Regions from separate parts of the Homo sapiens genome. Here region 1 is linked to region 2. Evidence: fine-mapped expression QTL. A gene starts in region 2. The other region holds a variant in brackets. All regions are shown on one strand. Distances are between the middles of the regions.

The links.
Region 1: its variant is fine-mapped to the expression of PBXIP1 in thyroid (GTEx, PIP above 0.99).

What each region holds. Positions count from the first base shown.
Region 1 is chr1:154,719,738-154,725,045 of GRCh38, forward strand. The region is part of intron 5 of KCNN3 (potassium calcium-activated channel subfamily N member 3); the gene reads right to left. Among named protein-coding and RNA genes, the nearest start is that of ADAR, 110 kb to the left of the region's middle. The variant G/A (reference allele first, on the strand shown) is at 2,134.
Region 2 is chr1:154,952,988-154,958,359 of GRCh38, forward strand. PBXIP1 (PBX homeobox interacting protein 1) reads right to left here and starts at 3,112. Exons shown (of 11, transcript NM_020524.4): 1 at 3,082-3,112; 2 at 684-770. The coding sequence starts at 734. PYGO2 (pygopus family PHD finger 2) reads right to left here. Exons shown (of 3, transcript NM_138300.4): 3 at 4,039-5,372.

The sequences.
Region 1 (5,308 bases), 230 kb before region 2:
CCCTCATCACCACCCTGCAGACTTGCTCTGGCTTCCCCGGCTGCCCTCTCTTTCATCACCCTGCTTGCACCTCCTCTTTTTCCTCCCCCTGTTCTATTCCACACTCCCTTTACAGGCTTCTCTGCCTGCCTCACCCAGAGGCCCTCACTGACCACTTAGAACTGGGAGCTCCACCTCTCTGGCTGGCAGGAAATTGGGTAGAGAGAGAGGAGGTGTATTTCCGTTGTTCAGAGTTGGAGCTTGAGGTTCTCCCTGTAGCAATATGGTAATGGGTGGTGGATAATTCTATAATGCTATTTATGTGATACTCAGTTAGGGTGGAGTTAAGCTGGCTTTTCTTTTCAGCAGGTCTGGGACCCTAACCCCATGCTGAGTTCCAAGGAACTGACCGCCCTAAAGCTGCCTGCCTGATGGTCTGAGAGCAAAGTGGATCTTGCATAGGCCGGGGGCCCACCCTCGCCCCTTTCTGGGCCTTCGTCTTCTCATGTGGGTTGGAGTGGCTCTTCCCTAAGGGTCCTTCCAGCTTAAACGCACATTGTTTCTGTGACTATTGCTAAAGAAAACCTGCACCCAATCTGTCTGGGACAGAACCTTGTGCGTGATGTAATTTATAATCCTCTTCTGGGGAGAATTAGCATTCCTGATAACTGCCCTATTGATTATCTGATCCATTGTAAAGACTTGAAGACTTGTTCTGGAAATCCACTGTTGAGCCCAACCAGCTGTCCATTAGCAGTCTTTAGCTAAACCTTCTATAATCTGGCATAACAATGACTACCATTGTTTTTCCTACGAAATACCACTACTAAGAGTAATCTTTGAATTAGCCTGCTGAAGAAAATTTTCTTCTAGCAAGATTATGATCAAACTTTGGCATATGCTTGTAATTAAAGAAAAGTTTTCTTCAGTGTCATTCAGGAGATAGTAGGTGGGGAAACTACTTAAAGGTTTTTGAGCAGGAAGTAATTTGTTCAGAGCTAAGCCTGAGAGTCTAAGGAGATCCATGGGGAAGCAGAGTGCAGGATGACTGGGGTAAGGGACGCCGAAGTGAGGAGAGCAGGTAGCAGGCTGCTGTGATAGTGCGAGACAGAAGATGGCGGCTTCAAGAGTGGCGGGGCCGAGGCCCTGGAGAGGCGGGCATGCGTGAACAGCCACGGCAAGGTGAAATCAGACACAGAAAGTGCTCAGACCCTCGTGGGGTCCAGGGTCCAGAGGAGTCAGAAATGGGGCTAAGTCTTTAGGCCTGGCGTCTGGAAGAACACGATGTCAGGAGCACACCAGGGAAGTTAGGAGAAGGAAATAGTTTAGGGAAGTTGTGGGTTTAATTTTGGTCTTATTCATTGAATTCATGGGGAAGTGTACTTGGGTGAGCTACTTGGGGCAAGAAACCCCTGCAGCAAGAAGGAGATAGGATCCTTAGCACACTGTGCTGTCTGAAGGTTCTGCTCACTGTGGCTTGATGTGGAGAGTAGGTACCGCAAAGAAAATATCTCCGGTCCATGGTGCCTCCCAAGCCAAGTGTGTCCATAGCAGCCCACTCTGCCTTTTTTTTCTTTTTCTTTCCTTTTTTTTTTTTTTTTGAGATGGAGTCTCACTCTGTCACCCAGGCTGGAGTGCAGTGGCACGATCTCAGCTCACTGTAACCTCCGCCTCCTGGGTTCAAGCAATTCTCCTGCCTCAGCCTCCCGAGAAGCTGGGATTACAGGCACCCACCACCATGCCCGGCTAATTTTTTGTATTTTTAGTAGAGACGGGGTTTCACCATGTTCGCCAGGCTAGTCTTGAACTCCTGACCTCAAGTGATCCGCCCACGTCGGCCTCGCAAAGTGCTGGGATTACAGGCGTGAGCCACCGCACCCGGCCCACTCTACCTCTTATAAGAAGAAGTGCTCTCTGAGGGCAGTCAGCCACCAGAGGTTAGGGATGGAGGTGAGGACCACCTCTTACCCATCTTGGTGCCCCCAGAGTACAGAGTGTGGCACCCAGGGAGTGGCCTCTGTGATGGATCTGTTTAGCTACATAAAACAGAAAGATGGGGACATGAAAACACTAAGTGGCAGAAAAGATGGGGCTCTAGTATCTTTCTTCCAGTCCCTCTGTGAATCATGTACTTAAATATTATCTAGTAGCCCA[G/A]AGATTAGCAATAAGTTATAATTACAGAATAACAATGGCAGTGACACTGCGAAGTCAGTGTGGGAAGATCTGATTGAATTAAATACAGAAATGACGTTGCCACCAGAGTTGATAAGTCATACGAGGAAAGAAGATAAGCATGGGACTCAAGAAAAGCAGAAATTGAGTTCTTACCCAGTGCTATCAGACCCTCTTCCCTCCCTACAAACAAATAAATAAAAATAGTGCTGGCTCTCATGGCAAAGGCTAGGCTGCAGTCTTTAGAGCAAGACAGGATGAATAAATACTAGAACAATTTGAGTATTTTCTATGATTAATAGCTACAATTCCTTTTTTCGTTTTGCGTAGGTCTTTGAAGCATCAAGGTTGCATATACCGGTAAGAGACTGCTTTTATCTGTCAAATCTACTAATTGCCCACTCCGAAGAGGTTGCAATTATGCCACAGTCAACTCCTTCATGTTGGATCTTTCTCTGAGAATTCACTGAGATGTTATGAATAGACTGAGCTTAGCATTTTTTTTTTTTTTTTTTTTGAGATGGAGTCTCGCTCAGTTGCCCAGGCTGGAGTGCAGTGGCACGATCTCGGCTCACTGCAACTTTCGCCTCCCAGGTTGAAGCGATTCTCCTGCCTCAGTCTCCCGAGTACCTGGGGCTACAGGCACGTGCCACTACGCCCGGCTAATTTTTTTGGATTTTTTTTTAGTAGAGACAGCGTTTCACTGTGTTAGCCAGGAAGGTCTCAATCTCCTGACCTCCTGAGCCATCTGCCTCGGCCTCCCAGAGTGCTGGCATTACAGGCATGAGCCACCGCGCCCGGCCAAGAGCTTCTAAGGATCATGTCTGAGAGTGAGTATTTCTTTTTTTTTTTTTCTTTTTTTTGACAGAGTCTTGCTCTGTTGCCCAGGCTGGAGTGCAGTGGTGGGATCTCGGCTCACTGTAAACTCTGCCTCCCAGATTCAAGCGATTCTCCTGCCTCAGCCTCCTGAGTAGCTGGGATTACAGGTGTGTGCCACCACGCCCCACTAATTTTTGTATTTTTAGTAGAGTCAGGGTTTCACCATGTTGGTCAGGCTAGTCTCGAACTCCTGACCTCATGATCCACCCACCTCGGCCTCCCAAAGTGATGGGATTACAGGCGTGAGCCACCGCACCCGGCTGCTTAGCATCTTCTTGACCAATGAGCCACTCCAGCTTGATACAATGGACCATTTCAAGAGGACAGAAGGCAGGCCAGGCATCCCCAGGGGAAGAGAGGTGGGGTTCTCTTGTGAGCAGGTCAAAGTCAGCTCAAACCAGAGCAGGCCAAGGATGCACACATCCAGTTTCATTTCAATTAAGGTTATGTAAAAGAACCTTCAGAAGTTCTAGTCCTGCCAGCTTTGAAAACCTTCTCTCTGTAAGAACCATCCCTTCTGTGTTGTTTATTTCCTTGAGAAAAGATATTAGATATTAAAGAGACATTTCAACAGATTTAAGTGTTCTCAGAAAAGTGAGATGTTATTCGATTAAAAAGCTACCTTAGATTCATGGGTGAGCAATAAATATTTGTTGATTTGATTTTCAGTCCTACTTTTCAAGAAGTGGAATTGAGGAGGATGTTAGGGAATCATTTTTGAAAGATTAAAATTAGCAACCACAGTCTCATCTTCTACAATTATATTGCAGAAAAATTGTTTATTTTCCTGGCATACAAAGGAGCTGGCTTTCCTCAGCTTTATTTTCCTCTAGCGTCTGATCTACTTGGTGAAAAATGGAGAGGACAAAGGAATAACACCAAATACAAAGAATATTCTTGGCTTAAAAAAGAAAACCAGAATAAACAGAGAGACTGCTAATGTCTCTACTCTTGGTAAACAGCTTATGAGAAGGCTTTGGAGGCAAAACATCTCCCTGCCCTCACTCCGGCACGTAGTTTCAATCCAGTGAAACCTCAGTAAATTGCTTCAGGAAAATAGATGCAAGTGGATTTGCATTTAGGTGTTTCAATAACTTGAATAATTTCCTCAATACTGAGCATGACTTTTGCACCCATTATTAGAGGGGGCTGAAAGAGAGTGGCCAAGTGGCAGGGTTCCCGGCAGGCCTTACTGTGATAACAGCCTTCAATCACTGCCATCGTGATGTGACAAATCATGGCTTTTTTTGGTGCAGCTGATAGCTCAGGGCCATGATGTATCAAGTACAAACACTTGAATGTCAACAACATAAGAATATTTGCCCGTACCAGTTCCTTTTAATGTCTGTTAAGGCTCTTTACAGAATCCAATAAATGTAATCAAAGACCAAACAATCAAACACCATAAATAATTCTGCTGAGAAACTGGAGAGGCCTTGGCCGCTGCACACTCTCCCACTGCCTTCCCCAAGAGCTCGCTCGCAGCTCCCTCTGTCATTCTCTCTCTCTCTCTTTTTGTTCTTCCTTCCTGCCGTTGTCTCTATTTCTAACACATTTTTGCTGCTGTGCAACATTAATCACTGAATATTTTCTCTAGCTTTCAAAAACCCAAATCAAAATTTGGTTGCTCATGGGTCCCTTAACCTACTTCAGTCCTAAATGAAAAAGACTATGGAGGCCGAGACACGGGCACAGGGTTTTAATTCTGTCTCGTCTCAGAAAGAGGACAGTCTTGCAGGAAATCATCTTACTGACCTTCCTTCAGGCTGTAGTTCTAAAGAATTTTCCATAAAAGCTGTCCTTGAATAAACAGCTCCTGCCTTGCCCATTTGGCCTGCTGTTATTCTGGAAGGCTTGTATCTGTCTATTCTAAATGGGTCTTTTCATCTCAGACAATTCAGTGGGGTGTCCAACTTTCAGCAGCTAAATGGTCTACCCATTCCTGCATATTTTCAGATTTTCATCTTCCATAACCACTTCCATAATGGTTCAAGTGAGAAACATTACCCGGAAAACCCAAAAGGGAAAAATTGGATGATGATGTTTTGATGAACAATTTTATTTAGGGATGTGGGCTCTACTAGAATGATTCTTTTTTTTTTTTTTTGAGATGGAGTCTTGCTCTGTCGCCCAGGCTGGAGTGCAGTGGCGCGATCTCGGTTCACTGCAACCTCCGCTTCCTGGGTTCAAGTGATTCTCCTGCCTCAGCCTCCTGAGTAGCTGGGATTACAGGTGACTGCCACCACACCCAGCTAATTTTTGTATTTTTAGTAGAGAC
Region 2 (5,372 bases):
CAGAGATGCCTTTGACAAATTTTTGCCATCCCTTCTCTAGCCACTCAGTTCCCCATCCTGCCAACCCCCTTCTCCCTCCTCAGTGGGCTTCTGCCCCACCAGCTGCTACCTGGACTGCTGCAGGGGGTCTTTGAAACACTCTCTCCCTGTTCCCACCCAGCATGCACAGTGGCTTCACCCTCTGCCTGAGACAATGATTGTCCTGATCCCTCTAACCCAAAGCCCCACACTGATTTCCCATCAGGATGAGGCCTGAAGGCCTCAGCCAGGCTCTTCCGGTCTCTTCCAGGGGTTCCCAGGCTCTGTCCCCAACCTCACTCCAACACTGGCTCCAACCCACGTCTCCACATCACCCATGGGTGTCCCACAGTCTCCCCCAGCATGGCGTTCCCCACTATCGCCTCAGGACCTTTGTTCACATTGGTCTCTCCATTCGAAATCCATCCCTACTTGTCTCAGCTTACCCAACTGGTCCCTTCCTTCATGGCATGGTCCAAGTGCCAACACCTGACCCCTGGGGCCTGATCTACTTCTTCCTGCTACTGGAATTCCTCTAACAGCCAGCAGGAAGTGATGTAGGTGACCATCAGGACTAAGGAAAAGGACCCACCAAGAAAGAAGCCCAGCACTGCAGAAACACCCCCCAACCCCACCCCCATGGTTCCCAGGCCCGCTCTTCCTACCTCGGAGCCAGCAAGCACCCAGCTATTATCAGAGTCTGGGCAGGAGGCCATAGTTGCTGAGGTCCCTGAGGCTGCTGTGGCTGCCACCTGCAGAAGAAAGCTCTCTTAAGGATGGGAGCTCCCTTCAGGAGGGGCAGAATGCAGAAAGCAGCCTTGGCTGGGTTCCAAGGTTCAAGTGCTGGGCAGCAGCCTCCAGAACCAAGCCTGGTTCCAGTCCTTCTCTCCCTGACACCCCAGCTCTTCTAAGCAGTATTTGCCTTGCAAATCAGAATCTGCCAACACCCACAGAGAAGCCAGCCTCTTCCAGGGACCAACAGGGCCTTGGAAAACTGAACTGACCTTGAAAGGTCAAAGTAGCATAGGCTGGAAAGGCTCTGGGGAATTCCAGTCCAGCCCCCTGACATTTGAGTCAGGGAAGATGAAGCCCAGCAAGGTTGACAGACTCAACTTGCCAATAAGAAGACTTGTTAATAAGAAGAGCAGGGAAACAACACAGCCCTCCCTTCACAACACCAGGTACCTACACAATCACTACCTTCTCCCCCAGGACCTGGAAGGGAAGACTCAATGGCCTCCTTCAGCCCTAAGTGTCCCACCACTTGCCCAGCATAAGTCCTTGGTATGGTCTAGTTCAGTGGTTCTCAATCTTGGCTGCACATTGGAATCACCTAAGATTTTGATTCAATTGAGTTGGGGGGTAGGCCCGGCTGTGGGTCTTTTAAAAAACCACTCAAATGATTCTCATGCGCAGCCAGGGTTAAGAGCCACTGGCATAGCTTAGATCCACCTGGATGCACCTTTTATAAGTCTCCTCATCACTCTCAGTCTTCATCCTAAATTCTGTTTACCTTCTTAGTAATCGCCAGAGTTTGGTCTTAGGGAACTTGAAGGTGACTGGGAAAATGGATTTATGGCAACTATCATGTATATATACATCACTTTATAGCTTGCAAAAAATAGACAAAAATCAGGGCTATGGTCCTGCACCCGGTTAATCTGCTCTGACTTGACAGGGATAGGGGAGGGAATCACTCCAGTTTCCAAAGCCTGACTGACACAAAGCAGGGTAAGAAGAGAGGGATCCGCCCCTTCATCCAAGGCTAAAACAGTTCCCTCAGGCAGCTCCTGTTGGGACCAGGCATAAAGGTGGAAGGATAGATGAGCTGACCTCTCAAGAGTACTGGATTGTGATCCCTCAGAACAGGATAAATGACTGCTTCCCGAGCACTTTATAAGAAAACTCAGGAAAAGGGAAGTGAGGCTGGGAGAGTATGGCAGTTCTACCTTTGAAACCAACCACATTATCCCCTTCTGTTTGAGCTGTTTTCAAGTCCTGCGTGGTGCCCTAAGTAACCTCCTGTGGCTCCTGCCAGTCAAGATCCAAGTCCTGGATAGGTCTTTCCCAATGCCCATCCTCCCAGACACATGCACCCATTCCACACGGAGACAGGAGAATGGCTGCAATGACCTCCCTGTACCAAATCCAACAGGACACCCTGGCATGCATCTGTAAGTATCCATAGAGCCATGGCTGTTCAGCCTTCCGCTTGTGGCTCCACCCCCGCCCTTGTTATCATCTCCCCATCCCCAGTTGCTGACTGTTAACAGGTGGTGGCAGGAAGGAAGTGGCAGCAGCTTGGGCTGAAGTCCCTGTTTATCCCTAGCTGTGTGTGCAGCCTGCTCAGGTCCTCTAGAACCAGGCACCATGGCAACCACAGTGATGTCAGACCCACTGTCTCCATGGAAACCAGCAAAGGTATTTGGGTCAACAAAACAAATACTTATGAGACCCAAATAGGAGACACTCTGAAACTCCTATACTCTGGGTTCCAAACCCTGATACCTCTTTCTTGGTTAGGTTAACCCAGGGTTCAAAAAAACACCTCTTCTCCCAAGCCAGCATCTCACTGCCTTATTAGGAAGTTCCTTCTGCTGTCTAATCTCCACCCTTCCCTGCTGTGTTTCCAGATCTTTTTCTTTTCATCGACCTTCTGGAAGAAAACCCACCTCCACTCCCTCCCTCCACCCCCTTCTTTTCATTCAGGCAGGATTCAACAAACACCTCCTGTAAGGATTATGACAGAGACTTCTGCTATTTCTAAAAAACAGCTAAAGGGGGAGCTCTCCCACTCAGCATAAAGCTAGGAAGTCTCGCCTCTAGTTAATTTAAACTCCTCTAACAGTTGCTCCTCCAAACCGCTAAAGCAAAGGATCTAGGGCCACTTGCCTGGGGTACCCAGAGCAAGTTCCTGTTGTGTTAGCGTCGGCACCTGGCCTTCCTCCCCCAGCCCAGAAATGAAAAGCAGCTCATTCCTTCTAGATTAGTTCCGCCTTCCCTTTTCCTTATTCCACCCCCTTCAAAGCGAATCTGTGGACCCCTTCCCAGCTAAGGCATTACCTGAACCAGCTCTTGCTTCGGTCTTCAGCTTAACTTGTTGCAGGCTTCCCTTTGTTTGCAGCCCGAGAAGAAAATCATGTGACCAGAAACTGACCAATGAAAAGTCAACTTCCCCAAGGGGGCGGAAACTTTTGGCCAATAAGAGCAGGAATTGAGAGCCAGGGGAGGGGAAGGGAGGTCTAGCGACACGGCCCTAAACCTGGGCTTACCTCCTGGTGGGCGACCGGGGTCCCAGCTAACCGAATCCTGAGTTTCCTGCCCTTCTTTCCCAGTGTCTAAACAGTTTCTAGAGGGAACCCCCACAAACTGAGAGAAAAGCAGACGGTGCCGTCTTCTGAGATGACGAAGACAAGGGGCCAGGTTGGCCCCAGGATAGACAGAGACAGCTGTGAGATGGGGGAAGGGAGAGGGACAGGTCGCAAATCCAGGGTGTGGAAATAGCCCTCCTGCCATTCTCCCCAATCTGCTCCAAAACAGACTGCTTAAAAGATGCCATTGCTACTTTAAAAAACGGTTGGGGGACGGGAACGATCTGAAAAACATCCCAAAATGAAATTTGCTAGGACAGAAGCAGCCCCTCCCCTCACCCTTAGAGCGACACTTGCTCCCTAACCCAAACAACTGGGAGGTGGGTGGGGTGCTAAACCCAGAAGAGCTCAAGCACTTGTCTTCCAGAGGCTGTGGTGCCAAATCCGCCTGGCTCCAGGCCTGGCCCAGGAATATGCTCAAAAAGGAAACTCAGTTTCTCACAGTGGAGACACAGGGGGATGGGCGGGGAAACACAGGCCTCCCTTGGCTCAGCAGCTTATACCAGGGTCAGCTCAGGGGCCAAATCTGCCATTCCCACTCCCAGGGACCCTGGGGAGCATACATATCCTCAACCCCTAAGCACCCTACCCAGCAGTGACAGCGGCTCATTCCAGCCTTTTCACACAGCAACAGCAAGGAGTCCTTGTCTGGGATTTTAAAATCATTTTATTAATCCAACAGTACAAAAGACCCCCACCACCACCGCATTCTGCCATCACTTTGTTCCAAAAAGTAGTGGAGTGAGAGAGCGAGAGGGAGCAGATCCAGCAAAAACACTCCCCCAGGGGCCATTTTACAAAATGCGGAGCAGGGGAAGACAACACAAAAACAGCAACAGATAAATGGGGCAAACAGAACAACAAACACAAGAGTTGAGCAGCGGGGTGGGGGTGGGGGGTTGCCATCTACGCCGTTTTAGTGTGAGGGACACTGGGAACGATGCCCAGAGGCTGCTCTCCTCCCAGCCTCAAAGGTTGTCAGCTCCACCAGAGCAGGGTCTTCTCTCCTCATGCCAGGAACTGAGAGAAGTGGGGGTAGGGGACCACTAGGTCTTTGCCACTGTATCTTGAGCTGGGGGACTCCTAACTTCTCCGAGGGCCACACCCCATGCCTGCCTTCCCCACCCCATGGAGGAATGTGTGCATGAACAGAAAAGGAGAACGAGCAGCGCTAAGGTCCTCATCAGGCCCCAGGCCCATCTCTGGCAGGCAGTGCTTAAAAAATAAAAAAAGACAAATAAAGCCCAGTGCAGGCCTTTGGCTGAGAGGAATGAGAATTGCTAATTAATCACCAGGCCCAAGAGGATATGAAAGAATAGCAAAGAGAAGCAACAAACTCCAGGCTCTTCTACCTTTGAGTACCATGGCAATGAGGATCCCGCCGCATCCCCTACCCACAGGCTGTGACAGGGCCTCACTTGGATCCTTTTATCATGGAGGAAATGAGGTATAGGGCTCTGCGCCTTTTCAAGCTTTCCTTCAATCAAGCCAGGAAGGCAGGGGAATAAGGGCGCCGAAAGTTGAAGAACACACGGAGTATAATGTGCAACAGATGGGCTGGGGGAGGAGGGTACCACCAAAGTCCAGACTTTCAGGACAGCCCAAACTTCAAATATTCTGGTCTGTCAGATAACATATCCCAATTTTTGGCAAAAATATGGTCATTAGGAGAAAAGCACGAGAGAGGCTGAGAAAGGACCAGTGACTTTGGTATGAAGAAGATACGTCCTGACAGCATCTCTCACCTACTGTCTTGAAGCCCCAAATCACCAAGAAACTGCCATAACCAGGAACTCTCCTGCTTCCTCAGGCTATTTGGTTCTCTGAGGGGGAAGGAGTTGGGTAAGTCTTGGAGGAAGCAAAGGAGTGGGTAGAAAAAGGGGAAAATCCCCATTTATTCCCTAAAGCTGTCTCCCAGAGCCCATAAAAGGGCTATTGCAGGGATGGCAAGACCCCAATTCCTCTGGCCAGAAACCTTTAACA